2 separate regions of the Homo sapiens genome follow, and region 1 is linked to region 2. Evidence: fine-mapped expression QTL. A gene starts in region 2. The other region holds a variant in brackets. All regions are shown on one strand. Distances are from middle to middle. Region 1 overlaps DTHD1 (death domain containing 1). Region 2 holds the start of DTHD1 (death domain containing 1).

Region 1 (16,557 bases), 33 kb before region 2:
TCCACATCTTCATGCTGATCCACATCGATGCCTTAGCCTGTCAGTTAAGAGTTTGTAGAATCAGGCTCTAAACTACGGAACAGAGAGAATTTGAGTATTCCTTCAAGTCAATAGTTCTTAAACTTTTAGAATCTGGAGACAGCTATAGACCTCCCCTTATTCACCAAGTCATAGATATTTAGGGTGCCTACTATGTGCCAGGCACTGTTCTAATCACAGAAGAAGGAACCTGGATAGAATAGACAGGGTCCTTCATTCATGGAGTTTGCTTTTTAAAGAAGCAAAGGAAAATAGAAAATACATGAACAAATAAATCTAAAAATATCAATGATGAGTGTTAGGAAGTAAATCGAGAAAGGGTAACAAGTTAAAAAAGTGACCTCAGATTAGAAGATAAGGGAATAAGAATAACAAGTGACATCTGAGCTGAGCCCTGAATGATAAAGAAGCAGCTATGGGACTATCTCAGGGAAAATTGCCGCATGCGTAAGTAACGGCCGTATGGTGCAAAGTCTTATGGTGGAAATGAAAATGCACAGAAGAGGCCAGGCATAGTGGCTCACGCCTGTAATCCCACCACTTCGGGAGGCCGAGGCGGGCGGATCACGAGGTCAGGAGATTGAGACCATCCTGGCTAACACGGTGAAACCCCGTCTCTACTAAAAATACAAAAAATTAGCTGGGCGTGGTGGCGGGCGCCTGTAGTCCCAGCTACTCGGGAGGCTGAGGCAGGAGAATGGCGTCAACCCAGGAGGCGGAGCTTGCAGTGAGCCGAGATCGCGCCACTGCACTCCAGCCTGGGCGACAGAGCGAGACTCCGTCTCAAAAAAAAAAAAAAAAAAAAGAAAAGAAAAAGAAAATGCACAGAAGCAAAACTGATAGATGTACACCAGATTGGCTGGCTATACTGTCATCAAAGCCTCATTTTCAGTATCAATGGCTTAATAAATTCCTCTACTTATGCATGCTTCCCATGGACCACGGGATCTCCCCCAAAACAGCAAGTAAAGTTAATGTCGCCAGGAGACTGTTCCTCTGTACTGAGGGCTGCTTTCAAGTTCACTGGTTGGTGTCCAGGTCATATCATTTGTTAAATATTTCTAATATTATCTCTGTACTAAAGCATAGTACAGACATCATACAACATCAAAGGTGTACCTGGATGCCCTAAAATCCATCTTGTATCTTTGACTAATAATCCTAGCTTTATGTGCTAACAAAGTGACAGCATAATAGCCATTCAACACACAGGAAGCAGATTTCTTGGGTCTGAATTTTAGCTCTGCCATTTACTTAGCCATGAGAACCTGGGCAAATTGCCTAAAATTTCTGTGCCTCAGTTTCCCATAAAATAAGAACAATTATGTATCATAGGATTTCTGTGAGGGTTTAGTGATACAATGCATGTTAAGTATTTGAAAGGCCTTTGGCATATTAGACATTATTACAATGGTTATTACACAACTTGTGAATTCCTGCTAAGCTATGCTTACCACCCCGGTCAAATGCATTATATTCTCTCCCCCAACTTGCCTTTTTTCTTCATTTCCACTGTCTGAATTTCCACCAACTTACAAAGCTCAGATAAAATGCCACAAACACCACAAAACTTCTACTGGTTACAGATTATAAAAAAGCCATTTCCCTTCTCTGAACAACTATTAGTACCATCTAGTACCAACTATTAGTACCACTGTTTATATCACCTAAATATAACTTCAATCAGTTACTATTTTACAACGTAATTTTGTGTATTGTTTTGTGTACTTATTCACTGGATTATAAATTCATTTAGAGAAGCACTATTCCATAGACATATAATTTGAGATACATATGTAGTTTAAAATATTCTATTAATAGTAACTATTTAAGATGTTTAAAAAATAAAAGAGGAAGTTAATTTTTATATATTTTATATAACCTCATATAACCAAAATATAAATTTACCATGTAGTCTATGTAAACAAATTATTAATGAGATAGTTTATATATTATTTGTACTGAGTCTTTGAAATGCAGTGTGTATCTTAAACTTACTGCCCATCTCAGTTTAGACTAGCCATATTTCAAGTGCTCCACAGCCACATATGGGCAGTAGTGACCATTCAGAACAACACAGCTTTAGGGCATGTATTATCCTTTACAGCTCTGTATTTATCACAAAGCCTAGCGCAGCACATCCCCTATTTCAGAAGTTCAATATTAATATTTGCTAAATTACTTTAATGATTTATTTTAAATCAGTGCAAAATCTAACCGCATGGAAAACACATTCCTGCTAGTCATAGACAAAAAATATAAATGTGGGAAAATGATTTTAGCTTTCTTTAAAGAATAAGAAGTTTGTTTTTACCTCAAGATTAATGAAGTAAATTTTTCAGTTATATTTCTTGTTAAAAAGGTAGTTTAGATTCACCAAGTCCTGTTTCACTGAAATAAACTGTAATATACAGCAATAAAATGTATTTATTTGTGTGTTTGACATGTTCAAAGAAATAATTTAATCCTACTTTCTGACATGAGTAAGAATTTTAGGCAAACATAACTCATGAAACAACCATGCAGAATCTGGTAAGTTTCAGTATAAATATTTTGAGGTCATTTTTCTCTTCACCATGACTTTTCCTTAAAATGATGTGCTCTGTAATGTATTTTTTTCATAAATGATTTTCCAGTGACTCAGAGGCAGTTACAGAAAATGAATGACATTATTTTCATAGTTAGCAACAACATGCTGTGGGGACCAGACCAATCTGAAGCATTCTTGTTAGAAAGGCTGATATGAACAAAAGGAGAAATCCTAACATGTTTTCTAATACTCTAAAATTGGACCTACCTACTCCTTCTTTATTACCTCTATTCTTACCTTTTCTTTTAACTGTATGTGTCTCTATGACTGAAAAACTGATTGTGTTACAGAATTATAAATAATTAACAAAATGTAGTAATTAGAAAAGTAAAATAACTCACCTTTGGCAATTTCAATGGTAATTTGCAAATTGGCAACTGAGAATGGTTTTCATTAATTACGAGAGATTGATTCAAGTTGGGGACTATCTTTCCTTTAGGTACTTTATAAACGACAATGGTGCCTTTGTAATGAGGGCAACTATAGTTTCCAAATTCGTCCACTTCTTTGATTTGGAGTTCCAGCCTAGGTTTTCTTTGCAAGTGAAAAATAAGTGTGTAGTCTTTTCCATAATCCTTCCCGTTGCCTAAATAGAAGTAAAATGTATTTATTACCATTAAGTTATCTCACTTTGGGAGGCCGAGGCAGGCGGATCACGAGGTCAGGAGATCGAGACCATCCTGGCTAACATGGTGAAACCCCGTCTCTACTAAAAATACAAAAAATTAACCGGGCGTGGTGGCAGGCACCTGTACTCCCAGCTACTCGGGAGGCTGAGACAGGAGAATGGCGTGAACCCAGGAGGCGGTGCTTACAGTGAGCGGAGATCACGCCACTGCACTCCAGCCTGGGCGCTAGAAGGAGACTCCGTCTCAAACAAACAAACGAAAAAGATGTGCCACTTTGTGTTACTTAATTTTAAAAAATCCAAATAATTATTTTATTTTAAAAATACGATTAAAACTTTTGTGTATCATTGTCTTTTGTCAAAACATAACCTGACAAAGGAGCAATAGGCAGAGACCATGTAGATTACTCGAAAGATTTCTCATCGGTTGTTGGGCCAGGTGCTCTCTGGCTGCTTCTAAATCAAGTAATCTTTAGCTTTTCTTTCTCTATTCCATTTTGATATAACCAGAAACTACTTGAAATATTCAGCTTTTGCAGCATTTAGAAAATTATTTTCACCCGTTGAGAATTATCTTTTTCCTTTCCCCTAACTATTCATATTGTGACCTCACAATAGACATTCTAGAACTGCACTCTCCTATAACATGTGGCAATTTAAGTTTAAATGAAAATTAATGAACAGTAAATAAAACTCAATTTAACTCCTCAGTCAGTCTACCCACATTTAAAAGTCTCAATGACAGCATAGGCATAATGGCTACCGTAATGAACAGCACAGATATAAAACATTTCCACAAGTGTGGAATTGGACAGTGTTGATCTAGAACTTTCAGGTGTAATAGTTATTGAATTTGTGTTACTGAAATTTCTATGAAAACCTGACAGATTCTCCTAAAATGATAATATATAAATGTTTTATCAACTCCTTACTGAAAATTCTAGAGCTTTTGTGAACATAACCTTTCACTTACTGGGGTTTTATCATGACAATCAGGATATTTCACGTTGTTATTTCAACAGTAGAATAAACACTACCATGTTTCCTAAGGCAATATATGTCTACATCAAAATTTGTAAAATTTGTAGGAAGCTATAATGTAGCACTTAAGATGATATGTCTTGGATGTATAGATCTAGGTTCAAGTGCAGCCTCTATGATTTGTGTATTCTGTAATATTTATCTGTTAATACTTGTCCATTGTTTTTCATATCTCTGAGCTTCTTAGAGCCTGAGCTTCCCTTAGCTTCCTTACCCTTAGAACAGGAGAAATAAAGCTTAACTTCTAGGATTGTTTAGGAAATGAAATGAGAAAATTTGGATAAAATAATTGTCATAGGGCCTGGCACACAGTAAGTGCTCAGTAAATGACAGCAATGATAGCAAATGATAAGAGGCAGGATTCTTCCACTATTTGGAATTTGCATGCAAAAAAAAAAAAAAAAAAAAAAACTCAGATTGTTTAAAGAAATGTCAAGACGAAGCTTTTTTTCTTTTCTTTTTTTTTGAGACTGAGCCTCACTCTGTCACCCAGGCTGGAATGACACAGCTCCACAGTGGCACAATCTCAGCTCACTAAAACCTCCACCTCCCAAGCTCAAGCTGTCCTCCCATCTCAGCCTCCCAAGCAGCTGGGACTATAAATGTGGGCCACCACGCCTGGGTAATTTTTTTTTTTTTTTTTTTTTGTAGAGACGGGGTTTTACCATGTTGCTCAGGCTGGTCTCGAACTCTCCTGAAGGCAAGCAATCCACCCTCCTTGGCCTCCCAAAGTGCTGGGATTACAGGCATGAGCCACCGCACCTGGCCAAGATTTAGCTTTCATGTCTACATGGAAACTTCCTTCGGTTATTGTAAGCCAGCATGCAGTTGACTGCCCAGAGTTCTCCCTCATGGAAAACTTTCCATTTTGCCCAGTGAACAAAGACTTCAGTGAGAGATGTAGAAGATACCATGACCCTTCTCCCGGTCCTGACTGCTTGAGATCATTTTGGTGATTTTTCTAAAGCTCAGTTAAATCTAGAAATAGAATAACTCCAGATTACAGATGGTGTAGGAGTAGATCCCTTTGCAAAAGTTTATATTTGAGAGGCAACCTGGCTACTTGGAAAAAAAGAAAAAAAAAAAAAACAGATTCCTAGGAGACAAATGAGTAGCCAGGGTTTGTCTTCTTAAGAGTGTCTCACTTTGGTTAAAAAAAAAAAAGTAGACTATTTGGGGTCATTTAAATGTTATCTAAATAGTAAATTAGGTAAATTGGGGTTTCCAGCTCACTGGAGTAACATCTGGCTAACTTCTGTTTCCATACTACTAGAGTGCTGTCAAGAAAACTTTTACTACTTTGGTCCCTGTGGAATACCAATTAGTAAATTTCCCCTTCTATCCCTTGAAAGACATTATACTCTCTGCCGGGGGCACAATTATTCATAAGAAATGGTTTACACAGAGGATATAAGGGTTGAGGGTGAGGCATAGCCACACTGGTTCAATTGAGACCTAAAATGTATACCAATTTTTAAAACTAAAGACCTCTAGGGCAACTCTCTAAAGATCACATTTATATATGTAGTTGGGATGAAATTATTGAAGATTTACTAGCAGTAAATAGCATAATCTTCATGTTGTAAACAGAAACCATTATGTAATTTTGGAAAGTTGGAGTTTCATTGTTGTTAAGGCATAATAATATATTTTAAAGACTCCTGGCCCCTGAACAAAAAATAAATCCAAAAAAAGAGAAGTGGCATGAAGAAACTGCACTACTCTGTTTTTTTTTTTTTTTCCTCCCTCACTGGCATATTTAAAGGAGAAATAAAAGAAAAACTCATTCATTCCATACCCAAAGTGTAAAATCAACCAGTAATTGACCTTTTGAGAATCTTTTTCTTTTTCTCAATATCTTAAGTATATAGTCCCCTAGAAGTGTCTTGAGATAGTAGCTATTTAGTAAATACTTGTCATGTAAAAAGTTCCAGAATGTACTTATATTTTGTGGATTACCTGCTGTCCCTTATAGCAATATATTTTCTTCTCAATAATGGGCATTAAATATTTTTCATTGATGACATAGAAAATACAAATGTAACAATAAATATTTTTGCTTAGGGAAGTCATATTTAAAAAATTGAAAGTGCTAGCAGTCCGGGAAACCAGAAAAACCCTGTGAGAACCACTGGCTCAGTGTATTTCTATATTGTAACCCATTCCCCACCAGCTCTACCTCTAAGCCATGCCATTTTTTGCCTGGTTTACTGCAATTAAACAGTAACTGATCTCCTTGCTTCTCCTCTTGCTCTAAAGCCTATTCTCAACGCAGTTATAATCTAACTCTGATCACTTCTCTGTTGAAAACCCTTCATGTTTCCCCAAATCACTCAGCAGAAAAGGCAGTCTTTCCAATGGCCTACAAGGCATGATCAGTTCTCACCTCATCTCCCACAACCTGTGCTCACTCCCTCTGATCCAGCCATCTCAGGCTCCCATTGTTCCTCATACACACAAGGCAAGTTGCCACCGAGTTCAGTGTCACTGGCAATCCCTCTGTCTGGGATAAACTCCCTGAGATAGGATTATGGCTTGCTTCCTCACCCGCTTAGAGACTTTTTTTTTTTTT[TA/A]ATGTCACCTTTCCAGAAAGGTCTTCCCTGAGATAAAACTGCAAGCCTGCTACACCCTTTAAGGTCCCCCTATCCTTTCCCTGCTTTATTCTTCTATAATTCACTTTTCAGCCCAAATTAAGCTATGCATTTTATTTACTTATTTGCTTATTCTCTGTCTTTCTTCATTAGACTTTAATATACCTAAGATCAACAAATTTTTGTTGAGCAAATTAAAGAATGGTTATTATATAGGTGTAGAGATAGATGTAGAGATACATCCTATAGAATATCTAGAAAAATCACTTCCCTGGGCCAAAGGGCATTCAGGGCAACTTTAAAAGGCAGACCTCACAGGGCATTACTAGATGTTATGGATGATGCCATGGTGTCATTATATAAAATCATATTAAAACACTTCCTGGCACTTTCTGGATTTTGTGTGCAGTTGGGGCTTGAATAACATGCAATAATCCAAGTGCTAAACTGACAACTCTAACCTAGAGAATGAAAGCTTGCTGTAGCTTGTTTCCAGAAGAATGCCAAAAACCGTCATAAAAACCAAAGGACGCACCTATCCATCTTCCTTCCTATTAGAGATAGAAATACAGTCCATGTCCTGTGACCTTCACTGAAAAGTCATTCATATTCTCTATAAGTGAATAGAGAGATTTTGGCATTTCTCAAAGGCAGTAATCTAAATTTATTAATTAAAGTTTTAAATACTTTTAATTGCACTTAATACTATAATGCTTTTTTTCTAAACTTTGGTCTTCATTTCTTTCAATGAATACTGAGTTTATTCTAACTGTCAGGCTCTGCCCTAGGTGCTGGGGACTGAATGCTGCCCTCCAATAGGATGGAGACTGAATGCTGCCCACCAGCAGGACAGTGCCTCCATGGATGTGACCATGGTAGGAGAAACTGGCATTGGTCAAACAATTAAATGAAAAAATAGAAAATTGCATGTGACAAAGGCCACAAATGAAAAAAGGAGGATCTGCAAAAGTATAATAGAACTATTAAAAAATAAAATAAGGTCTGACATAATCAGGAAGGATAGAGAAAGCTTCTCAGAACATGATAGTTGAGGTGAGATCTGAAGATACAGCAGGAGAGAACTGGGGGTGAGGGTGGGGGTGGGGAGGGCGAGGAGAACCCTCCAGGCAGAGAATCTCTAGCTTTATCTCTTTGAGATTCACAGAGACTACGCTAGGCCCTGATAAAAGGATGGATCTATGCTTTTACCAGGATGAGGTATCAATTGTTTACTGAGGATCTTTTCCCTCTTAGGCAGAGAAAAACCCAGTGAGGCTCCAGATCTGAGCCTGTCTCCCTAGGAAAAGCAAACCCAGGATCTGGGTATCCTGCCTGCTCATTTTCCCTGAATGAAGATGAACTCTTCCCCAACCCTTATAGGGAGGAATTGCACAGGTGACGGCTGCCTTGGACGCTCTTGGTTTAGCACGTGCTCCCCGGTCTCCACAACAGGCAGTGGGATATTCAGTACCACTGCTTGTGAGTAGAACAGTAATGCACTCCTATTTAGGGTGGTTGGTAAACACAGCTGCTGTCCACAGTATTACAGGAAAATCATTTGCATCATTCGTTTGGGTGGGACCCTTCTGCTTAGTACTATGTCTCAGTAGAGAGATTTCTCCAGGGTGGACGCTGTGGTTTCTGCTCCGGAAGCCAAGTAGGAAGGGGCCTCTTCCACCCTTCCTTCCTCTCCCTCCTCTCTCTTCCCTGCCCCCTTCTCTGCCATCTTTGTCACTTGCTCACTAAGTCCCGTCAGCTGGCTCAGATGCTGAGATCCTGTATGTGACAGTAGAATAGACACTTAAAATTGGGACACTTTAGGTCTCACTTATTCCTGAGATATCAAAAAAGCTGGGAGGGCAGCATCAGCTTCAAGCCTTGTCCCTTTTTTGAAGCAAAAAAAGAACCAATGAAGCTTGGAGCTATTTCCTGAATCAGAGAGAAAATAGGCATAATAAAATTAAATCGGATCCATATTAATTTATAAGTAAACGGAGCACATCCCCTCAAGTAAAGTATGTAGAAAGCCTCCTGGAACAGAAATCTTCATAAAACCTGTCCGGAATTTTCCCTCTCACCTCATTTTTACACACACACCTGTCTGATTCTATTCCACCACAGGGCAAGCAGTTAGAAAGAGGAAGGTGTTGGCTTAATGAAAAAGAAATTGTTGTGATGGCAACTCTTTCAAAGACGTTTCCTCTCTATTCCCACACAGCTGTTTTCTCTTCTTGTTCTTTTTCTTCCTTTTCTCTTTCTCTTCATCTCTTTCCTTTGAACTCTTTAGTCTCATCTATTCCTTCACTTCTGTAATCTCTCCTGCCACCTCTCATATTCATCCTGCTTGCTTTCCTCATCACTGTCATATAATCATTCATTCACTACACACTTATCAAAAGCACTTGCATGTTCACTGCAGCACTATTTACAATAGCAAAGTCATGGAATCAACTTACGTGCCCATCAATGGTGGACTGGATAAAGAAAATGTGGTACATATACACCATGGAATACCATGCAGCCACAAAAAAGAACAAAATCATGTCCTTTGCAACAAAATGGATGCAACTAGAAGTCATTATCCTAAGCAAATTAATGCAGAAACAGAAAACCTAATACTGCATGTTCTTATAAGTGGGAGCTAAACCTTAGGTGCACATGGACATGAGGATGGCAACAATAGAAACTGGAGACTACAAGGGCTGAAAAACTCGTTGTTGAAATCATTCTCTAGATATAAATCTATCAAACATTGTACAGAAAAAATGAGGATGATAGTTTATTTGTCAGTCAATGATATTTCTTCAGTGTATTTGATTAAAGTGTACAATAACTGGTAATACATTACTGGTGTCAGTGTTTAGTTGGGTTGATATAAAAAATAAAGCATTTTGTAAAGAAAAAAAAAGTTTTGGATATACCAGTTCCTATGTTAGGCTCAGAGGATATATTAACAAGAAAGACATGGTCATTGCCCTCATGAAGTTTTCATTCCGGTGAAGGGTAAAGGACATAGCATAACTATATGAACAAAAAGTAAATAAATTAATTAAATAATTTCAAATTGTGGTAAGATTTAGAGTGAAAACAAAAATAGCACTAGAGAAATATGGGAAAAGAAGCAAGCAAGGTATCTCGGCTCACTGCAACCTGCGATCTCGGCTCACTGCAACCTGCAACCTCCGCCTCCCGGGTTCAAGTGATTCTCCTGCCTCAGCCTCCCAGCGGCTGGGATTACAGGCACCTGCCACCACACCCGACTAATTTTTGTGTGTGTGTGTTGTGTGTATTTTGAATAGAGACGAGGTTTCACTATGTTGGCCAGGCTGGTCTCAAACACCTGACCTCAAGTGATTTGCCTGCCTCAGCCTCCCAAAGTGCTGGGATTACAGGCGTGAGCCACACACCCAGCCTAGATCAATTATTCTTAATTTCTTTTTTCCCATAGACTCCTTTAGAGTTTGGTGAAAACTGTCCATTGATTCTCAGAGTAGTCTTTGAAAAATATAAAATAAAATACATGGAATAAAAAATATAGCAATAATACTGAAATATAGATCTATTCACACATTTTTGGGAGTCCACTGACCCCCAGGTTAGATTCTTTGTAAAACATCTTAAAGAGTTTGGATATTATTTTAGATAGAATAGGAGGTAAAAATAAGGTTGTAATCACTGGTATAATATAGTATGATTTATGTTTTTAAATGATCACTCTTATTACCACATGGTAATTGATTTCATATGGCCAATAATGGAAGCACTTAGAAGGCAACTTTACTCCTGTAGGAAAGAGATAATCCTAGCTTGGACTCAGATAGTAACTGTGAAGAAGGCTATTTCTAAAAAGTGTCACTTAGAATCTTCCCATAAAGGAACATGCATTCCCTAAGTAGAGAATAAAGAAATAGGAACAAAAAAAGTATAATAAATAAGTCTTTTTCTCTTCCTACTTCCTAAAGTCTCTCGTCAATCCTCTGAAGGTTTCCTTAGTAACACAAGTTTAGCAAACTCTTCTGAAGAGCTTGTGGCTTATAGCCAATAAAATATATAAAAAGATTTCTTTATACTTACTTGAAGCAAATATGTTTCCAGTAAATCTTAAAAGAAGTTGTTCTCCTTCTCGAACTTGGAAATGACGAGATGGCTCTGGAGGTCCTCCAAACCCTTCCAAGTGCAGGTCCTTAAGCACCTGGCTTAAATCTTTGGAAGGCACCACTAAAACAGCTATTCTATGTGGATTGTCCTTCTGGTGAGACAGTACTATGCAGGCAGTGGTGCTGAGCATGGCTTCCTCTAAAGATTTCACAAAAGTAACCAAATGACTATTGTCCATGGTGGAAGAGAGGTGAAGTACAATAAACCTGCATGGAAGAAAGAGGTGAGACCCCAGGGAAAAATGCAGTGTCAAGAACATCACTGATATCTAATAACACCCAAGAAAAGAGTCATATCAAACAGACGTCTTTTAAAATCAAGTATTCTCAAAGACAACAGGTGAGATTCATTAATGATTGTAAAGAAACTCTTGGCCATCAAGAAACCAGCTCAGGCTGGGCACAGTGGCTCATGCCACTTGGGAGGCGTCCCAGCACTTTGGGAGGCCATGGAGGGTGGATCGCTTGAGCCCAGAAGTTCAACACCAGCCTGGGCAACATGGCAAAACTCAATCTCTGTAAAAAAAGAAATAAATAAAAAAAGAAACCAGCTGAAATCAAAATAAATTCTAAAACATGTTCTTAAACGAAGAAGTCATACAGTCTCAGCTCAGCTCTAAACATGGCAGCATATTTTAAGTGATATTTTAATTAGAATTACAAAAGAGCATATTTAAAATATAGAAGAGAAAGATGAGCACAATAATTTATTGACTCCATAGGATGCAGAATGTATACCATAATTAAATGGGGATTAAAATACGCATCTCTGTGTAGGTGGGAAGGATCGTTAGGATGGACGTTGGTAGGAATTGCATTGTGTCTCACCCTCCCCACACACATACACATTCATATGTTGAAGTACTATCCCCTAGTACCTCAGAATGTGACCTTATTTGGAGATAAGGACTTTACAGAAGTAATCAGGTTAAGGTGAGGTCGTTAAGGTCTTCTCTAATCCAGTATGACTGATGTCATAAAAGAGGGAAATTTTAACACATAGAAATGCATACAGAGAAAACACCCTGAGACCATGAAGATGGCCATCTACAAGCCAAGAAAAGAGGCCTGGGCAGATCCTTCCCTCACAGCCCTTGGAAGGAACAAACCCTGCTAGCACCTTGATTTTGTACTTCTGGCCTCCAGAACTGTGAAACAATAAGTTTCTGTTGTTTAAGCCACCAGTATGTGGTACATTGTTAGAGCAGCCTTAACAAACTAATACAGACCTCTTTCCCTGGACTGGGCTACCCATTCTCAAATTCTTCTTCAGTGATTTGGCCTAAAAGAGGCCCTCACCCAGAGCAGCCCTACATCCATAGACAAGGACTGACCAATGTGGGGATGTAAGGCCAGCCGCCTTGGTACTCGCACTGCAGAGCTCCCCGGAGCGTGTCAGGCTACAGAAATACTTCATCTGAAACCATGGTTTTTTCCATCTTCCTCCTTTGCCCTACAGGATTCACCCAAGAGCTTTCTTTCAATAAATCACTTGCTTTTCATCTCAGACTCTATTCCTAGGAAACTGGATTCAAGACAATCATAAATGTAAAACTTCCCATTATGAAATAAAAGCTATTTTTAGATATATGATCACCTGTCTCTATGAGTGGCTACTCTTCATGAACCTTAAATCTGTCTAAAACTCTTCTCATAATGGGCTGTCTAGAAAACATGGAAATGAGAAAGCAAAATGAGGGCACTGAAGTAACAAATTCCGCTTATCTATACATAGTTATGAGATATGCATAATATGAACAGTTAATTACTATCTCCATGGTATTTCAGAAATGAAGGTGCTATTTTAAAACTATTTTGGAGTTAGCAGAAACCTGTAGTTATGAGTGCTTTCCCAAAGTACTTGTTTAACTATCATAAATGAAATTACAGATAGCATACCCATGTCAATTCTGGTTTGTATTTTAAGTACCCTTTAAAGAATGGTTAATATTTCTATTCGAAGAATAAAAATTTAATCTTACTATTCCATTTCTATAAACACCAGTTATGACCATCAGAAAGAGTATCATCAACTTTGATTGTTTTTGATGGTATTACCTCTCCAAATGTTCATACAATTCAACTGATACCAAGCCGCTCTGTATGGTTTTCACAACATCATCAAGCCCACACCAACCACTGTCTTGGCTTCTGAATCCCAGTAATTTCAAACATTCACTGGCATTTTTCCTAGGTTTTCTTATGGAGGCAATTTTTGTCCTATATAATGGTAACAGAAGAGATATTGGTACAATTTACATGATATAAATCTTATTTAATGCATTCATTCTTTCATTGTGAATGATCTAATAACAATTCATTAAGTACATACTATGTGCCAGGAATTATGCTTTGCACCAGGAACACAGAGATCAAACTATATAACCCTTGCCCTAAAGAAGCACGTAGTAACACAGTATTATCTGATTACAGCACAAGGTGACTTGTGTGATAATTAAAGAAACGTACAGGGTGGTTTAGGAGCAGAAGCAAGAGGTTCGGGAAGCTTGCAAAGTGAAAATGCTAATATTTGAGATGAGCTTTGGAGAATGACAAGCTTTTTGCAACTGGCAAAATAGATTTAAGAGAGTACCCAAAAACATTAATAAACTCGCTGATGTAAACCCAGATGCTCTAGAATAGCAAAGAGTGGTTGTATAGCAAAAAAGGGAAGAGCACACACCCAGGAGCAAAACTGCCCAGTTTCAAAGCCTGGGTGACTCTGCCTCTTATGAACTGTATGACCATGGGCAAATTATTTGATTTCTTTCTGTCTGTTTTCTTACCTATCATATGAAAATAATAATGGTACCGATATGGTTTGGCTGTGCTCCCATCCAAATCTCATTTTGAACTGTAGCTTCCATAATTCCCACGTGTTGCGATGTTGTGAGAGGGACCTGGTAGGAGATAATTGAATCATGGGGGCAGTTTCCCCCCATACTGTTCTCATGGTAGTGAATAAGTCTCATGAGATACGATGGTTTTATAAGGGGTCTCTCCTTTTGCTTGGCTCTCATTCTCTCTTGCCTTCTGCCATGTAAGACATGCCTTTCACCTTCCACCATGATTGCAAGGCCTCCCCAGCCACATGGAACTGTGAGTCCATTAAACCTCTTTTTCTTTATAAATTATCCAGTCTTGGGTATGTCTTTATCAGTGGCATGAAAATGGACTAATACAAGTACCAACATCATAGAATTAAAGGAATTAATATTTCTAAAGCACTTATAATTGTAGTGAGCATAAATAGTATTAATATTCTAACTCTGCTTTCTGCTGTAGACACAGCCAATTTGCTTTCTTGTACAATTTTCCTTCTTGTGTAGCCTGCCCCACCCAAAGGCCCTGAAGAAATTGGCTGTATGTACCATGTGATACTTTTCCCCAACCACAGCTCATGTGACTAACAGTATACCAATTTCCAACAGCCAGCCAATTTGATTCTTTTTCTTTGGAATTTGACTAAGTGGCCCAGGGACTGTAACTTGTCACAGTCCTGTTTCTGTGGTACCTTGGTCAATGAAAATTAATAAGCAGAAAGATTATTCAGAAAGGAAAAATAGATGCTAAGAGAGAAAAAGGAGAAAAATCAAGAGGAGAGGATCCACATAGTCCTAGAGATGGAGAAAGCAGAGGTTCACTGTTTTAGCCTCACAATAAACTCTTTTCTTGAGTTCGTTTAAGTGAACATCTGTTCCCTACAACTAAAGGAAGAAAAGTCCCTATTACTGAACATCTTTGGGGAAAAATACCTAGTCTGATGATGCTACCTACACTCCACAAAGAGACAAAGCCATGGTATGTGAATGGAGACCAGAATGTGAATTTCATGTCTTCATTTGTCAAGTGAACTAGAGTTACACTCTAGTTTTAACTAGAAGTTAAAAACCAACTTACTTTCACAGGTTGACCTGTCCTATGACCCATAGATTCAGATTAGAAACTGAACTTGATTTAATATGTCTACTCTGAAAACTTCTTACTCTGTATTGGTTACTTCAGGAGATCAGCTAGATTAAAATTAGGAGCTTAGGGGAAAAATAACGTTTACTTTTATGCTGTTGGGTTATAACCACAGATATGGTAAATTCTATAACCCTTGGAAGTTAATAATTTATTCACACAGGAAGTTATACTCTTACTGAATCCAGAATATTGGTCATTTACTAGAAATTGACTTCAATGTAATTTTTTTCTGATAGCATTCATTCACTTTCTTTTCTGTCAAAACCTAAAGTATTTGTGGAGACCAACAGGCTCCCAAGGGTAGTGGGGCTGGTCCCTACTCCCAGGACCATTGGGTATATAACCTGAGCCAAATAATGCATTGGTCATTCATTAATGCTGCTCACCAGAATATCCAGTTTCACCCTGATCTGAATACATGACAGGGTTACACTTCCTGGCCTCTGTGGTTGAGTGGGGCCAAGTGACTAGTTCCAGTAAATGATGTGAATGAAAAAAAATATGTGTCACTTTGAGGCCAAGGACTTAATTGCTAATATAGGTCTATCCAAAGGTCTTTCTTCTGCCACAGTGATAGCAACCGAACAGTGGCTGTTCTATCTAGAGTGAGGATGACCAAGAAGCAGCCTACCTTTGATGGCCATGACAGATGCAAAGATTGTCATTTAAGCCCTTGGGATTTGAGAGTTTTGCTATCATGCCATAACCTAGGCTAATCTGTGCTATATCTGTCTTCCGGTTCCAGTGATCCATTCAGTGATGGATTTGTGACAGATCTGGAGTGAGAATCAGGCCCTGCACTTTTATGCATATTCATAGGGAAAAAGCTTCCTCTTTTCTACGAACTTAGACTTATAAAGATGTAACTATGTTGCCAGAATGAGGAACAAGCATGTCAGAGAATGGAATTGGCACAGAGGAAAGCAGATAGAGATGAAGAAGAGAGACTAGGTTCTTCCTGGTTGAGGAAAAAATATATAGATAGATACATCCTCAGATTTTTAATTTACATATATCAAAAATTCTTTTTGCTTAAACACTTTGGATTGGCTTTCCTATCACTTAAATCAAAAGAGTCCTTAACGATATAAAGATTAAACTTAAACTTTAATAGGCACAGTCCACATTCAAATTAAATAATCTGATAGTATACTTGTGTCTCACAACTGGTAACAGCTCTGCAACTAAACTATTTCCTTAATATATGCTAATTGCAAAGTTTGACAACTAGTATTGTCTGACAGTGAGTAGCACTTGATCAAACTCCATAAAAGGCAACATGCTGACATAGTGACAGTTCCAAAAATAGTAAAGATTTATTTTTTAAATGTGTTTATTTTAAAATGACCAATTTTGCTTGGGACTCACCCAGACAGTACTAATCTCCCTGAGGCTACAGATTAAAATGTCATGCTAGTTTATCTGTGGAAAAAAATAATATATGATACAGAATTTGACAAGCATTCAAACCATCAAAATTCTCATTCTATATTGTATTTTACTTTCAGGATATTTTCTTTGTGATATTCATGATGCGTAGAT
Region 2 (15,045 bases):
AAGAAAGTGAGAGTTTTTGGAGCTAAAATAAATGAATAGACTAACATTTACCTGGTGTGAATATCTGAAAAAGTGGCCTGGTGTTAGGTCGTTTAAGTGATTTTCTCATTTGACCTTACCAAATAATCCCAGGATGTATATATTATTTCTACAAATAAGTAAATTAGGCTGAGAAATGAAGCAAGTTGCCCAGGGTCACAGAATTAGTATGTAATAAAACAGAAAGTGAAATTTAAGTTTGTCTGATGCCCAAAACACATATTTTTTTTTTTCACTTCTAAGCGTGTTATGTTTGTCTGGGAAAATATGGTCTGTGAATATCTTATTTTATACGGACAAATAGGGCCTTATTACCTCTTTGCACAGGAGAGAAAATTTATAAAATAGATTGGTCTTTCTCACTTTTTTGAAGTTATGGTCTCCTAGAGAATCTGATGACAGTTCTAGACCATATCCAAGGAAATGAAATAGGTCTGAACATACACATTCAATTTTAAGTACCTCCCAAAGCTCATCCATAAAATCCCTAGAGTTCTACAGACACGGGTTTAAAACTCATAATGATTTTCTTGAGAATATAAATAAAGTGAATCTGAGGCTAAAACATTCTCTCCAAATCTTCTAACACCCTACAGTCTTCTAGTTTTTCTTATTATATTTGAACTCGTAGTAATTTGCAAAGTATTCATGATCTGGACAATTGCTCATTTTAACTACTTTCGTATCTACTCAATTCCTTCCTCTTTAAAAAAATGTAATGTGTTTGTTTCTTAAAGCTATAAGAAATAAACAATATTAATAATAGTGGCCATATAAATTTTTATAGGAGTGATTTAAGCTGAATTACTGATTACAATATCTTTGGGAGGTATGAAATGGAAATACTATGCATGTTGCTATAGTCTAACTGTTTGTGTCTCCTCAAAATTCATGCATTGAAATCCTGACCCCCAAGGTGATGGTATTAGGAGGTGGGTCCTTTTGGGATATGATTAGGTCATGAGGGTGGAGCCCTCATGAATGAGATTAATGTCTTTATAAAGCAGGCCCAAGGGAGCTTGTTCACTTTTTCCACCATGTGAGGACACAGCAAGAAGGCACCTTCTATGAACCAGAAAGCCCTCACCAGACACCAAATCTGCTAGCACCTTGATTTTGGATTTCCAAGCCTCCAGAACTGTGAGAGATAAATATCTGTTGTTTAAAAGCTACTCACTTTATGATGTTTTGTTGTAGCAGCCTGAATGAACTAAGACATGTACTAACTATAGAAACACACATATAAGTAGGCATACTTAAGCACTTCCCACATTGCATTTACTTACTCCTTTTCCATTATGTTATTCTTGTGCTTTATATTCTCTGAATCATTGGGAAGAGTACTATTTATATATTTCTTGGAGATATCACATATTATTGAGGATGTGGTCATCTCTTCTCTTGGGCTTTCTGAAGTCTCTTGAATTTCTGTCTCTGTTGTCTGAATTATGCCATGAGTCTCTTCCCTGTTGCCATTTATGTTCTCAACAGTCATGTGTTCTATTTGTTTATCATCTTCATTTTCTGCATTATCTGGGAACATTTTATTCTGTGACTCTTCTTGCCCCAGTACACGTCCATTCAGTGATGTATTGTTTTCTTTTTCCACTAATGCTGAACTCATATGTGTTTTATTTTTTTCTAACTGGACCTGGTTTGTGTAATGACTTTCCTCTCCATTTGTGGGAGAAACAGTAGCTGTTTCTATGACATTTAGTTCCCCTCTTGCAGCAATGTCTGCTGCTTTGGTATCTTGAATGGAGGACATTGTCTGCTGTGGAGTACATTCATCATGCATGCCGCATAAATTACAAATCTCCTTTTCTTCTTTCTTTAGAAGTGCAGCAGTGCTCCCCAAATGTTCAGTTATTTTTATGAGGCAGTCTATGAAAGTAATGATTTCTACACACACATACATGGACACACAAAGAATAAATACAAAACTAAACCAAATTATGTTTCTGCACTGACATCTAATGAAACATGGCAAGATAATTTTAGAAACCTACAAAGACCTTTACTGTGCATTTAAGCCAAACTCCTGAAGGAGAAGTAATTGTATAACTGTCACTCTTTTAACAATTGTAGGATTGACAACAAACCATTTTTAACATGGTAGCAAAGAGTAAATCTAATCCCTCTTGCTTATAAAGATACTTCGAATATTTAAAGACAAATGTCATAACCTCTTGCTCCCCCAATAAGAACTGAAGTCAACATCTCCCTCAATTGTTTTTCATTTGGTATGATTTTGAGAACTCTTCTTTTACCACTGGATGTACAATAGTTTATCAATGATCCATTTAAAATGCTGGGCTGAAAATTAGGCGAACACTCCAGATGAGGCTTGGGTGGCAGAAACACCATACCTCCATTATTTCTGCCAATGTAGATGCTTTGTTTTGGAGCCTAGTTTACTGCTATAAGAATTGGATTAGGTTTATACTATTCCTCCTGATGAATTTGTGAGCATTGGAAATTTTCAAATTAGTCCTTCAGAGAATAGCTCTGACCATACCAATTCTCTGATTGGAACCTGAAGTGGCTACTCAAAGCCTACTAACTCAGGTCAACCTTCTTCACTCTGAAGTAAACTCTTAGCATGATCAAATCTTATATAATCTCTCACTCCGTCATCATTCTTCCCACTCTCCTATTTGTTCATCCTGCTTCTCCTCACTACTGAGGTCACCTGATGACTTCTTGCAGGCTTAGTACCTCTCTAGTCTTTAGAATTCAGTTCTGAACTAAAGAATAGGTAATTTAAGGCCCCATAGCTTAGTGTTTTTAAAGCCATCACCAAATCATCCCTTCACCAGTCAGGGCTTTTCTTTGGGATCCAGTTCTGACAACTTGTGTTTTGTTTTGTTTTGTTTTTGTCTTATACCTGAGAACTTGTCTTTATTTTTAACTCCTATTCTGGTAACCAAGTCCTTGTTTTTTTCTGAATATATATTTGCTTGTTATATTGCCAAAGACCATGTTCCACTCCCTCCAGAGGCTAAAGGTCTCATTGTGGGCTGCAGCTGATGGCTTCTCAGTCATGCTGCCTTTAGACAGATTTCCCTGATGCCCACTATTTGCCCTTTAGATTGAATTTCTTAACATCATCTACCCTGGATTTCCTCATAGATGGAACCTGCCCACTTATCTTGATACTGTATTATTTAGAGTTGAATTTCATGATGCCACCTATATGCTTATCTGGAGTAACTGTTGTTATCTAGGATTATATTCATCAGATTCCACATTCTTCCTGCCTTACTGTACTTTTCCACATCCATAACTGGACCTATTCCCAAGAATCCCTCTCCAGCCCCAGTGCATGGGGATCCAATTCCCTATCCCAACCCACTCCAGTCTTCCCAGTAATTTTGCAATCAATAAGGCTAAGCTCAAATGACCCTAGAGATAGAATACTATATTCTGATATAAAAAACAAACTACTAGCTCTGCCTCAGTGGCCTGTATTTTCCTGTCTCTAAGTCTTGGATCCTACTAAAATTACCGACTCTCTCTTTCCTGCTGCATAAATCCAATTCACTCTTTAAGCTTCAGCTTAAATACTACATTTTTCTAGCAAACTTCTCAATTCCCCACCCTACAGATGGGATTTAAACTGCTTCTGAAGTCCAAAAGCACTTCATTCATGTGTTTCTAATGGGACTGGCCCCAATGTCCCTGGCATTATTGTGCATTTGTCTCAACTTATTTCCCCTTTGAAATTGTTAGTCTCTTGTGGACAGAAACTCTATCTTAGCCTATCTGGTATACTCATAGCCCCTCTCAGATCTTGCCCTAATCAATATTTCTTAGAGAAAGAATAAACTAAAAAAAAGAATACTTGCCTTTTCTCGAGACACATTGATTCTCTTTGTCAAGCAGCACATGCAGCTGCTGGCAGGTGGAACGCAGGGTGCCTGAGGTGTGCTCCAGCAGCTGGTGAAGGGCACTGCTGAGTTCCTGACCCAGAAAGACCACAGTGGCCATCCAAGTGGCCCCACCAGCCCCCTCACAAAGGTCATCACCCAAGAGTGCCTGCTTTAGCATCTGGTTTTGTCTCCAAATCTGCTTCAATATTTGGCCCAGTTTACCTGAGCCCATGTATTCCATATCCATTTTATGATCCAAAAGTGGTATTTTCTCTCCTGCCAGCAAAGCCTAAAGGTTTTGCAAATTCAAACTTTGTGATTGTTATTTCTCCTAAACTCTAGGAGATGATCCGAGTCAGCTAGCCCAGCACTTTCTCACAACATAGTGGTTATTCAGTTTGGTGTTGACTAGTGAAAAGTTACTAGGTGACCGAAGAAGGGGCGTTCCTGTACCATGGGTGCTACTGTGTACAGAATACATTAATCACTGGGGTAGAGCTGACTCACATGATCCAACTCTCTGTGTAAGTTTTACAAATTCAATATACTGTGGAAGTACCAAATACTTTTCAAGTTTTGAGGCAACAAAATACAGATTCCAGGTAGGGTAAGAAGTTTATTAATCAAAGGTAAACTGTATGAACAATATTGCTGGCAGGATTCCTGTAAACTTAAAAATATTTATGAATGAAATAATGTGATGTCTGATTTTGCTTCTAAATAATCAGGGAGCATAGGGGTGGGTAGAGGTATAAAATTTGCTGTAAGAATTAATAAATGTTGAAGCTGGATATGTTTACACATGGGGTCTTGACAATTCACTCTAATTAATGTGTATATGTATAGTATTTTTATAACCAAGAGTTTAAAAAGATTCCTCTACTGGAGCAGAGCCTATTGCATTGGTTAGGAAGTTATAATTAGCATCTTCTTATGTGGTAAATCTGCAGAGACTGAGATAAGAACTTGGCCTCTGATAATTTCCCTCTAATTGGATAAAATGCCCCTTCACTGAAAGAAAGTAAACCTGAAGAGTAGCTTTCTCTAAACTAGCAAGGATTCTTTACCATATGTAATTAAAATTCAGATACAACAAGCTCTCCCCACTGCTGCCCATCTGCCTGCCAGCGCATCATATATGGGGCTATGCAATGCAGCACTTGCGGGTATTTGGAGGAAACCAGAACAGTCTGCCTCCCTCTCTCCAATCCCACTGCTCAGAGAGAACACACACCTAAGCCAAAGGAAGAGGGCAGCAAGTACATTCCAGAGAGGCTCATGTTCCCTCGGGTACTGGAACAAAATGAAAGCTTTTCAAGTGGAAGCCGGAGTGCTTCCCTCCCACAGGCAACACATTATCTCATCTTAAGCCCTGGAGTTCTAAGAGCTACACTCAGGGCACCTGGAAGACAAGATGGGAAAAACAAGCCCAGAGAATAAATAATGAAGAATGACTGCCACTGCCCTAAAGACTGTCAAAGACCCTGAAGGAAAGGAGCAGTATTGAGTACTGGTGGCTGCAGAGTGGAGAGGGGCTCCTTCACCACTAAGTGTCTTATTTTTCAGTTAACTTCTGTTCACTGAAAAGGGGACCTTTTTCGCAGTATGAGTTCATATCACTTCATGGATTGGATCATTTAAATCTTCTCAAACTAAAGACTCACTCATTCAATTCTATTTTCTTTTCTTACTCCTTAAATGGATGTGTCATTCTCAATAATAATGTACACATGGCTTTAATTCAATGCTAATTTTGAAAACTTCCTATAGCATTTACTGTGGGACAGGAACTAAGTGCTGGAGGTCAGGCCTTTTTAGGATTTCAAGAGACAGATGCATGAACAGATTATTGAAATAAAGCTTAGTCTGTGTTGAGAGCTAGAGCAGAAGTATAAAGAAAAAGTATCATAAAAGCTTTGAGGAGTTAAAAAAATAATTCTGCTTAGAGGCCTGGAAAATGTTTGAATTAGAAACTAAAGGATAAGCAGGCTATGGAGTAAAAGAAAAAAAATATTCCAGCATAGGAAATAATATGATCAAAGTCACGGAGGCATGAGATTACACAGTAGGATCAAAAATGTAAAAGTATGGCTTTGGAGGAAGGTTCAGTTAACGAGTCAGAGGTGACAAATGAAGAGTTCAGTAATTGTAGATAGTGAGGAGAAGAAATTAGAATTTTGGTTTACAGATAAGACAGAAATTGAATATATTTGAATCAGACTGCAATGTGATGAAATCTGTGCTGTAGAGATGCAGATGTATTAGATGACAGAGATATAAGAGTTAGGAGGCTCGAAGGTCTGTATAAAACAGCAACAGAGCAGATGAGAGAAGGGGATGGCGTGAGAGGGGATTTGAAGTACAGTGGATAGAACTTACTAAACTTACCAAACCATCAGATTATAGGGAGAGGAATAGAAAGTATTGAAAATGCATTCATTTATTTGAGAAATATTTATTGACCACTAGTATAAGAACTATGCTTAGTATTAGAATATGACTGAAATATTTAATTTAGGTGATTACATAGACTATAAGACTATTAAGGAATTTAAGTGGGATTTTGGGCTCGATGGGTAGATAATTTAATTTTAGATTTGTTGAGTTTGAGGTAACTCAGAAAAATTCCTTAGAATGTGTTTTAAGTTTAAAAATTAGAATAATATTGGCATATTTGAATGTTACCAGTAAATAAGTGGTAAATGAATCCCTGGAAGTAGAAGAGATCAATGGAGAATTTACCATGCACATTTTAAGTATTGAATAAAACTGATAATGAAATACTGCTTGATCATTTGAGCAGTCTACATTTATTTCTAGATATGTGGGAAAATCCTTTCTCAGGAAGAAAAAAACAAACCCAGACATTCTCTTTGTTTCATTCACATTTGCTATCCTCAAGTTTAAACTTGTTCTCTGTTTGGCTTCTTAAGAACATATAATATTTGCAAAGTGAGACCTACCACAGGCCACACTGCATTTACTTGTTAAAACACGCATCAGCATGTTCCTGCACCTTATTTTCCATTAATTGATGTCACTAACCACAGAAAGAACAGACATTTGCAGTCAAGACACCTACAGAAGTTCACTGCAGAAATTCATCTGGATGATTTTAACATTTGATTGTCATCTTCATTGTTGCTACTAGTTATTATGACTCCTTTTACTTTCTTACTGAAAATTCAGTGCTTCCATTGACGTTAGTATGCAGTCTTGAATTCATACCATTATGTGGTCAAAAAGACAACAGTTTTTCTTAACATTAAAAGTATCAGAGTGGATTAGAGATAAAATTCAAATAGTAGGATAGTTCTTTGTTTAGTACCTAAAGAAATAAAAATATGCAGTTGATTGGACAGGCTATTAATGACAGGCTATTAATTGCAAAGGTTGTGAAGACAATAAAGTTTTAAAGCATAATGAAGACTGCTATTTTTCATGGCATTTATAGTGGGTAGTGGTGGGTAGGTTAGATGTAAGCAAAAGAGTTATGTATGCCTGAAGTATTATGAGCCAATGTTATTAGTTCTATAATGTGATTTTATTTTCATTGAATTTCTGTAGTTGCCTACATCAGAGACTTTGGTACTTACAGTCCAGAATAATTTTTCCCCTTTTGAACATTCATATTCAATGTCTGGTCATCTTTTCCCTGTTTAAGATAAACTCATGCATTTGGATGATGAGTGGATGGAGAAGGAAAAGAAATTTTCTTTTTGTTTTGTTTTTGTTTTCTTTAGTAACTTTTGGACTAGTAAAATATAAATTATATATTCAAATTTTTAATGTACTTACCAATTTGAAAATGTTTTCAAAGACCACATGGTAAAAATCAAAGCTAGCACTTCTGATTAAACAAAGTAGACTAGATATATATTCCATCTCTGATTTCTAGTGAGATGCCCTGAAAAGGATAAAACAATATATAAATCCCAAAAGATAAAGAGAATGGGCAATAAAATGATAGACAAAAGACGTCAACAAACTCCTGGAAGACTAAAAGCAGATGGGCAAGTAGCAAATAATCAAACAGGGCTGAAACCTAGGCACCCAGACAGTGGAAAACAGGTGAGTTCTTGTCACAGAATCTCAGAAGTTCCCGGAATAAGAGAAAGTTAGGACCTCTGAAAGTAAAGATGAACTTAGGGCTGTAAACAGGTGTTTTTGCTGAAACTCTGTTTGGAGAGCAGGTAGATTCCCAGATACCTCGCTTCTGCCCCAAAGAACCAGGCAACAATCTCTCTCCCACACATCAGAAGCTAGAGACTTTCTCTATGAATAAATCGTGGCAGCAACACTCAGCAGAGCAGAGAACTGGAGGGGGTGCTATGCTGACCATGAGGGTTAAGTGAAATTCTATTATGAGGTGCTGCTCTATTCTTCTGCTCAACTCCAAGAACACGAGCTGGGAAGCATAACCTTCCAGGCAGAAAATGGAAAGTTTCCTCCATGGAGTAACTGAACACTCCATGAGAAAAACCTACTGATAGTGAAACTTTCAGTGTCCCTCTCCCTATTTCCAACCCCACAAGCCTGGTCTGCCCCCGCCAGATCATCCACAGTGAAGCTCTGCATCATATAAAGCTTCCAAACTAGGCTCTTCATGCCTCACTTTAAGTGGAATAACAACCAACGAGGTCAGGCATTTGAAAAAGCCTCTAATATAAAGCTAGAGACTAAAGTAAACAAACAAAAATAAAGAACTTGGGAAAAAAAACAAGAGAACAAACACAGGGAAGAGGAAAATATCAAATCAATCTATAATTAGCATGTTCAGAGTCTAGGATAAGAAGAAATAATGCACTCACAAGACAAGAAAATATTTTCTTTTTTTTTTTTTGAGACAGAGTCTCACTCTGTTGCCCAGGCTGGAGAGCAGTGTTGCAATCTCAGCTCACTGCAACCTCCGTCTCCCAGGTTCATGCCATTCTCCTGCCTCAGCCTCCTGAGTAGCTGGGACTACAGGCGCCTGCCACCACGCCCGGCTAATTTTTTGTATTTTTAGTAGAGACGGGGTTTCACTGTGTTAGCCAGGATGGTCTTGAACTCCTGACCTCGTGATCAGCCTGCCTCGGCCTCCCAAAGTGCTGGGATTACAGGCGTGAGCCACCAAGCCAGGCCGAAAATATTTTCTTTAAAAGGGGAGCATTCTGGCAATGAGAAAGGACTCACAGAAATTAAATTATGATAATAGAATTTTCTTAATATGGGAAAGAAAAAGCGGTTGAGTAAATTCCCAAAAACATCAAACAAAAAGACAAAGAGATGGACAATAGGGGTAAAATGGAGGTTAAGAAAATTAAAGGTTAAATCCAAGTGGTCCCACTAATATGAGTTCTGGAAAGAGAAAGTAGAATGAATGAAATTATCAAAGAAATAATATCGAAATATTTCTCAGAATTAAAGTATATGATATTCTAGACAGAAAGAGCCCAGAACAGTATATACAAAAAATAATCATAACCAGTCATATCAAATTCACACCAAGGATCAACATTCCAGTAGCCTCCAAAGAGGGAAAAAACTGTCACATTTAAATCAAAAGGCATTGAACTTCTCAACAGCAACACTAAGACCTAGCAAATAATGAGTTGTGATTTCAATATTCTGAGGGAAGCCTCTTTCCAATCCAGGATTCTGTTGCCAAATGCCAAATGCCAAAGCATCATTCAGGTGTGCCGAGAAAGAAAGGGCATTTCGAGTATGCAAATGTCAAACTACTTATCTCCTGTGTACCCATTTTTGGGAAGCTACTCACAGATGAACTCTATCACAAGAAACAGAATGACACAAGAAAAACGCAGACATACGAGTCAGGAAATGGAAAATCCAGCAAAAGAGAGAGAGCTAAATCAAATGCTTTAGATGAAGTCCCAGGGTGACAGCAATGCTGTGGCCCTAGAAAGCCCCCATTCCAGACTGCAGCAGTCACCTGAGTGTTTCAGAAGTCTGTCTGCAAGCAGAAAAAATGGAACTCATGAATTAGCTGATGTTTTAAACATTTTAAGAGAAGTTTTACAATTCTATTAGAGAATTGAGGAAAAGAATTGTTGATAATTTAGCAACAGAAACAAAAGACAATTATTAAAACTGGGAAAAACTAAATTGTAAAGAAAAGGATATATAATTATAGTGTATTGCATAGTTCTGTTATGAATAATATTTATACAGCCACGGTAATAAAGACGTTTATAATTACTTTAAAATAAAAATTGTGGGCTGGGCGCGGTGGCTCACGCCTGTAATCCCAGCACTTTGGGAGGCTGAGGCGGGCGGATCACGAGGTCAGGAGATCGAGACCGTCCTGGCTAACACGGTGAAACCCTGCCTCTACTAAAAACACAAAAACTTAGCCGGGTGTGGTGGTGAGCACCTGTAGTCCCAGCTACTTGGGAGGCTGAGGCAGGAGAATGGTGTGAACCCAGGAGGCAGAGATTGCAGTGAGCCGAGGTCGCGCCACTGCACTCCATCCAGCCTGGGCGACAGAGTGAGACTCTGTCTCAAAAAAAAAATAAATAAAAATAAAATAAAAATTCTGATACATGTGTATTATTAGGACGAGTATAGGAGGTATGTACATAGCAAATGTGTATAGCAGGGTGGATACAAGAGAGCAAAAAGTCTTATTTCTATAGCAGGAAGTCAAATATTTAAAAATAAATCAAACATTTAAAAACAAAGAAAAACTATTAGGAATCTGGAGGTAAGTGCCAGAAGAAACTTCTAAAAGGTTTAATGTGATTGCCTCTGGGAAAAGACATGGGAAAGAACAAAGCAACTTCTGACTTCCAGGAGCTAGCCTGGCACTACCAGCAAAGCCTTGGGGTTGCTACCAGCTGTCCTGGTACTCACAGCTAGGTGTTAGTATTCTGTTGAACATTAAAAAAAAAATTAACATGACATCAGCACTATGATGGATCAAAACAAATTGAAAATCACTCTACAATCATGTCTAAACACATGAGCATTGTTCAAGCCACAAAATACGAAACATTCCCCTCTCTCAGCTAATACGAATGAGGACTGCTTCTTAACAATTGCATCTTTAGCATTACTCTAGTCTGCCCTCTCTAAGGATAAGACTTATCGAGATACCCAATCACAGATTATAACCACTTTTAGAGAGCATCCAATTCAGAGCGGGAAACTTCCGTCGAGTCACCCAACCAAAGCCCAAATCCTGTTATAAGTCCCTTTTAACATCCTTCACCTGAGACACCCCAGGATTCTCTGTGGTGTGAGTTTTCCCTCACTGAAATGGGTAGTGAGTCCTGCTTATTCAATTATAGGTGTGCTCCTGACGGCCTTATGCTGGAGGACAATGACAGATGCTCAGGTACTTGGGGAGGAAGAAGAGCAACCTGCAAGGATCTGTTGCTTTTCTTTCAAGTTGTTGTCATACTATATGATTTTTTTAAACTATGTGTATTATATTACTTTGATATAAACTAAATTCACATGTTAAAAATGAAATAAGCCAAATGTTGCATTCCCTAGGGATCATTTGATGGTGATATTAAGGTTGACACAGCGCATCACTTCAAGTGGGTTACTTCAGATCGGCTAACATACACTCCGTTGAGTTTGTAAGAAGTAATTCACCATTTGAAAATGCTTGGAATTTGGTGGCACATGCTCAAGAATGAACTCAAATTTAAAGCAACAAATGGGCTGGGCATGAACTTCAAACAGAGGTAGAGTAACTACCACCTGGTAATGGCTTAATATCTCATACTTCATCCCGATCACAGAGCTCTAGATACAGCAGAAGGTCAACAAATGTTTGATGATTAAGAAAATGTTGAAATGTAATAAACAATCCACACATTATTTTAAGAATATCATCATATCATTCCCCCACCTAGAAAATAATTAATAAAATTCCTTAATATCACAAAAATGTGGTCAGGTTCAAATTTCCAATTGTCTCTTAAAAGTCACAATTATTTTTACACAATTTTTAAGAATTAGGCTCCAAATAAGGTCCTAAAGGCAACTAACTCCCTTTTAATAATTCTCATATGAATTATGAAAACTGAAAAATGTATTTGAAAAAACATATACCAACAATGGAGAAATTTAATTATAGGCTGGAAAATTATCTTTCATTTTTGTCATTTTTATGTGGATGAGGAACAGACGTAAGGGAATTAATTCGAAAGAAGTCACCAAATTTGAAAAGTCAATAGACATATTTGCAGAGATATTTTCATTCCTTTGTGTTTAAGTAAATTCTTTACCATTCCATTAAAGTAGTTACTGATTTTGACATGTTTTGTTTTACATAGAAGTTTAGTATGAAAGTTCTTACTGGCAAGTTCTGCATTCACTATGTAAAGAAAATGGCTTGTTTTGGTGTCAAGAACTGAACTAGAACTGAAAAGTAATTACGAGTATTCAATTATTTGGTTAACAAAAGCGCCTTCTTAACACCATTAATGGCCTCTGAAATCAACATCAGTGTTTTCGATTACAGCTTTGCAACATGTCGCTGTGAGTCATTGTTGTGTTTGTAAAGATTATGACTCTTTATACAGTCATGGGCCTGTGACATGAAACCAGTGAAATAAATTTTCATGAAACCAATGAAATAAAAACCAGACAATTTTATCTTCTGTCAAAATCTTCTGAGACAAATGTTCAAATGAGGGTGTGCCAATGCATTGCTACAGTATACTTTATGGTATCATAGTATTTGGGATGTGTTTCTGTGCCATCTTCATTGCTTGACTTCTACCAGGATGTGAATAGTGATTTGAGAAGTAGTTCTGAAAAAGACAAAGAGGAAACACATGAATGAAAAAGAGTTTTTTAAAAAGAAGACAAAGAAAAGGTCTCATATGTGTTGACACTAACATATTCCTCCCAAATCACTTCCAGGTTCTCTGTTTTACTTCTGGACAATCATAACAAAATTCATCAATTAAACATGACTGTCCTATTCTACATCTTACCTCCATAAAAAGTCCCTTCTACATGCACTCCATGACATCTCTTAGAGACGTCATACACTCATCCCTTTGAATGTTGAATTGTCAGCAGAAATATCCCTCGCACTGTAAAAATAAATTTGCAAGAATCAAATTATTCAGCATAAACTCAACCCTCAACATCAAGAAAACTCTATCTTGAAGTAGGGAAATGATGCAAAAGAATGCCTAATTTGTTGCTTTTTAGAAATATTTGAGCTCTTCCAGCTAAATTTCTATGAGCTGAGAATACCTCAGGACCCCATAGTGTTCATCATTACTAAAAGGATGACATTGTATACAATGAGCCTCCAAGAATATTTGTTTCTCAGAAAAATGAATATATATATATTATAAATGGACAACATTAAGCTATTTAGGAGTATAACTATTTCCCCTCTTAGACTGTTGCTATCTTGACACATTTGACCTTATGCTATCAACTATCTTACATTATTTATATCCACTATAGGCATTAACCATGTCCAATATCAGAAGAGAAAATGTTATCAATCTTCTTTTTTACTTTACTTCCCCTCATCACTGTTCTTATCACCAGGTTCAGGGACATTCTAGAACCTCAGCAAGTGGCAATAGGTGGGAGGAACAGCCATGGCCGGCCCTAGGCTAGCATGTTTATTATGAAATTATCACCGACATCTCCTTTCTGGCCATGTTTCCCATCCATCTACCCCTTTCAGCGTATCTTCCAAGTTACCCTTTATCTCTTGCTGCCTTGTGTCATCTGTCAAAAATCACCCAAATAAACCCACTTGCATTAGAGTCTTGGCAGGTGTTGATTCTCCTCAGCAGCATTATTTGATTTTTTTTTTTGACACAGTCTCGCTGTGTCACCCAGGTTGGAGTGCAGTGGCACAATCTTGGCTCACTGCAACCTCTTCTTCTGGGGTTCAAGCGATTCTCATGCCTCAGCCACCAGAGTAGCTGGGACTACAGGGACACAACACCACCCATGGCTAATTTTGTAATTTTAGTAAAAAGGGGGTTTCGCCATGTTGGCCAGGCCAGTCTCAAACTCCTGGACTCAAATTATCCACCCACCTCGGCATCCCAAAATGCCAAGAGCCACCGTGCCAGGCCCTATTTGAATTTTTAAAGAATGAACCTGTAATAATAAAATCTGAAGCTTCTATGGGATGCCTTTCCAGGTGCATCTCAGCCTATGTGTTAGGTCTGTATGTGAAATGATATCATTAGAAGCATGTTGTTTTCAGCATTGTCAGAAATACATAACTACTAACTAGTTCATTTCTTAATTCAGAATTAGCTGTAACATTCCAAGGAAGCTGCATTTGATTTTTAAAAATTTATTTTACCTCCTTGTGATAAAAATGAGAGCAATGGTGAATTAATTTCTATCCTAGTGGAGAAGTCATTTTTGTTAGACAGAGTCTATCCAAGATTGTGCTACTGTTTAAAGATGTTATTGCAGTTACTGGCAGACCCAGATAACAGCTCCGATGTAATCCCAGATTCCCATATTGAATTAAATCTGATTTGGGTTATTTAGGTCACATATTGAAGAAATGCCCTCTCCGTGTCATTTCTCTGTAAATAGTGGGTGTCCTTTGGTTTTCTCTATAATATACATTTATTTTTGGAGCTCATTAAACAGGTTAGGTAACTTAAATAGGTCTAGTCAGTAGACAGGAGTTAAAGCTGAGGATAGAGAAACTCTCTGTGGTATTATCTAACACACAAGATGAGGGTTGTTCTTAATTCTTGGCTCTTACCTACAAAAGCACTGAGAGAGCCATTTGAAAATAAGGTCTTAAAATCAGATCCATATTTGAAATGGAAAAAAAAAGACATCACCTTTTATATTTGTGTTTCTTAGGAATATTAATTTTGTTTTAAAAGCAAAAACTTTAATAGACAGTGGATGTTATAAGAGCCATTTTGTCCAGGTGGGGGTGAGAGTAAGGAAATTCGAGCTTAAATAGTATAATACAATTTGTTTTCCCCATCTCTCTTCTCATAACTGCTTTTGTTGCAAATACATAGTTGCAATTGCTTCTTAATCTTAAATCAGTCTGTATTTTTGAAAGTCTAGAATAAACTGGGTGCTTAGGAGTTAATGATCTCATTATACTTCAGTAATGGTGCCATATGAATTCATGTGATTATACAGGATAGTACAA

Evidence for each region. PIP is the estimated chance that this variant, and not a neighbour inherited with it, causes the effect. A credible set is the group of variants that fine-mapping cannot tell apart.
Region 1: its variant is the best candidate, but not a certain one, in a credible set for the expression of DTHD1 in whole blood (INTERVAL, PIP 0.64).

What each region holds. Positions count from the first base shown.
Region 1 is chr4:36,302,900-36,319,456 of GRCh38, reverse strand. It overlaps DTHD1 (death domain containing 1), which reads right to left. Exons shown (of 10, transcript NM_001170700.3): 6 at 13,105-13,266; 7 at 10,964-11,253; 8 at 2,971-3,215. Among named protein-coding and RNA genes, the nearest start is that of DTHD1, 30 kb to the right of the region's middle. The variant TA/A (reference allele first, on the strand shown) is at 6,871.
Region 2 is chr4:36,270,872-36,285,916 of GRCh38, reverse strand. It overlaps DTHD1 (death domain containing 1), which reads right to left and starts at 4,301. Exons shown (of 10, transcript NM_001170700.3): 1 at 3,888-4,301; 2 at 1,326-1,941. The coding sequence starts at 4,158. LOC439933 (a long non-coding RNA gene) reads right to left here. Exons shown (of 5, transcript NR_122079.1): 4 at 12,869-12,970; 5 at 11,702-12,682.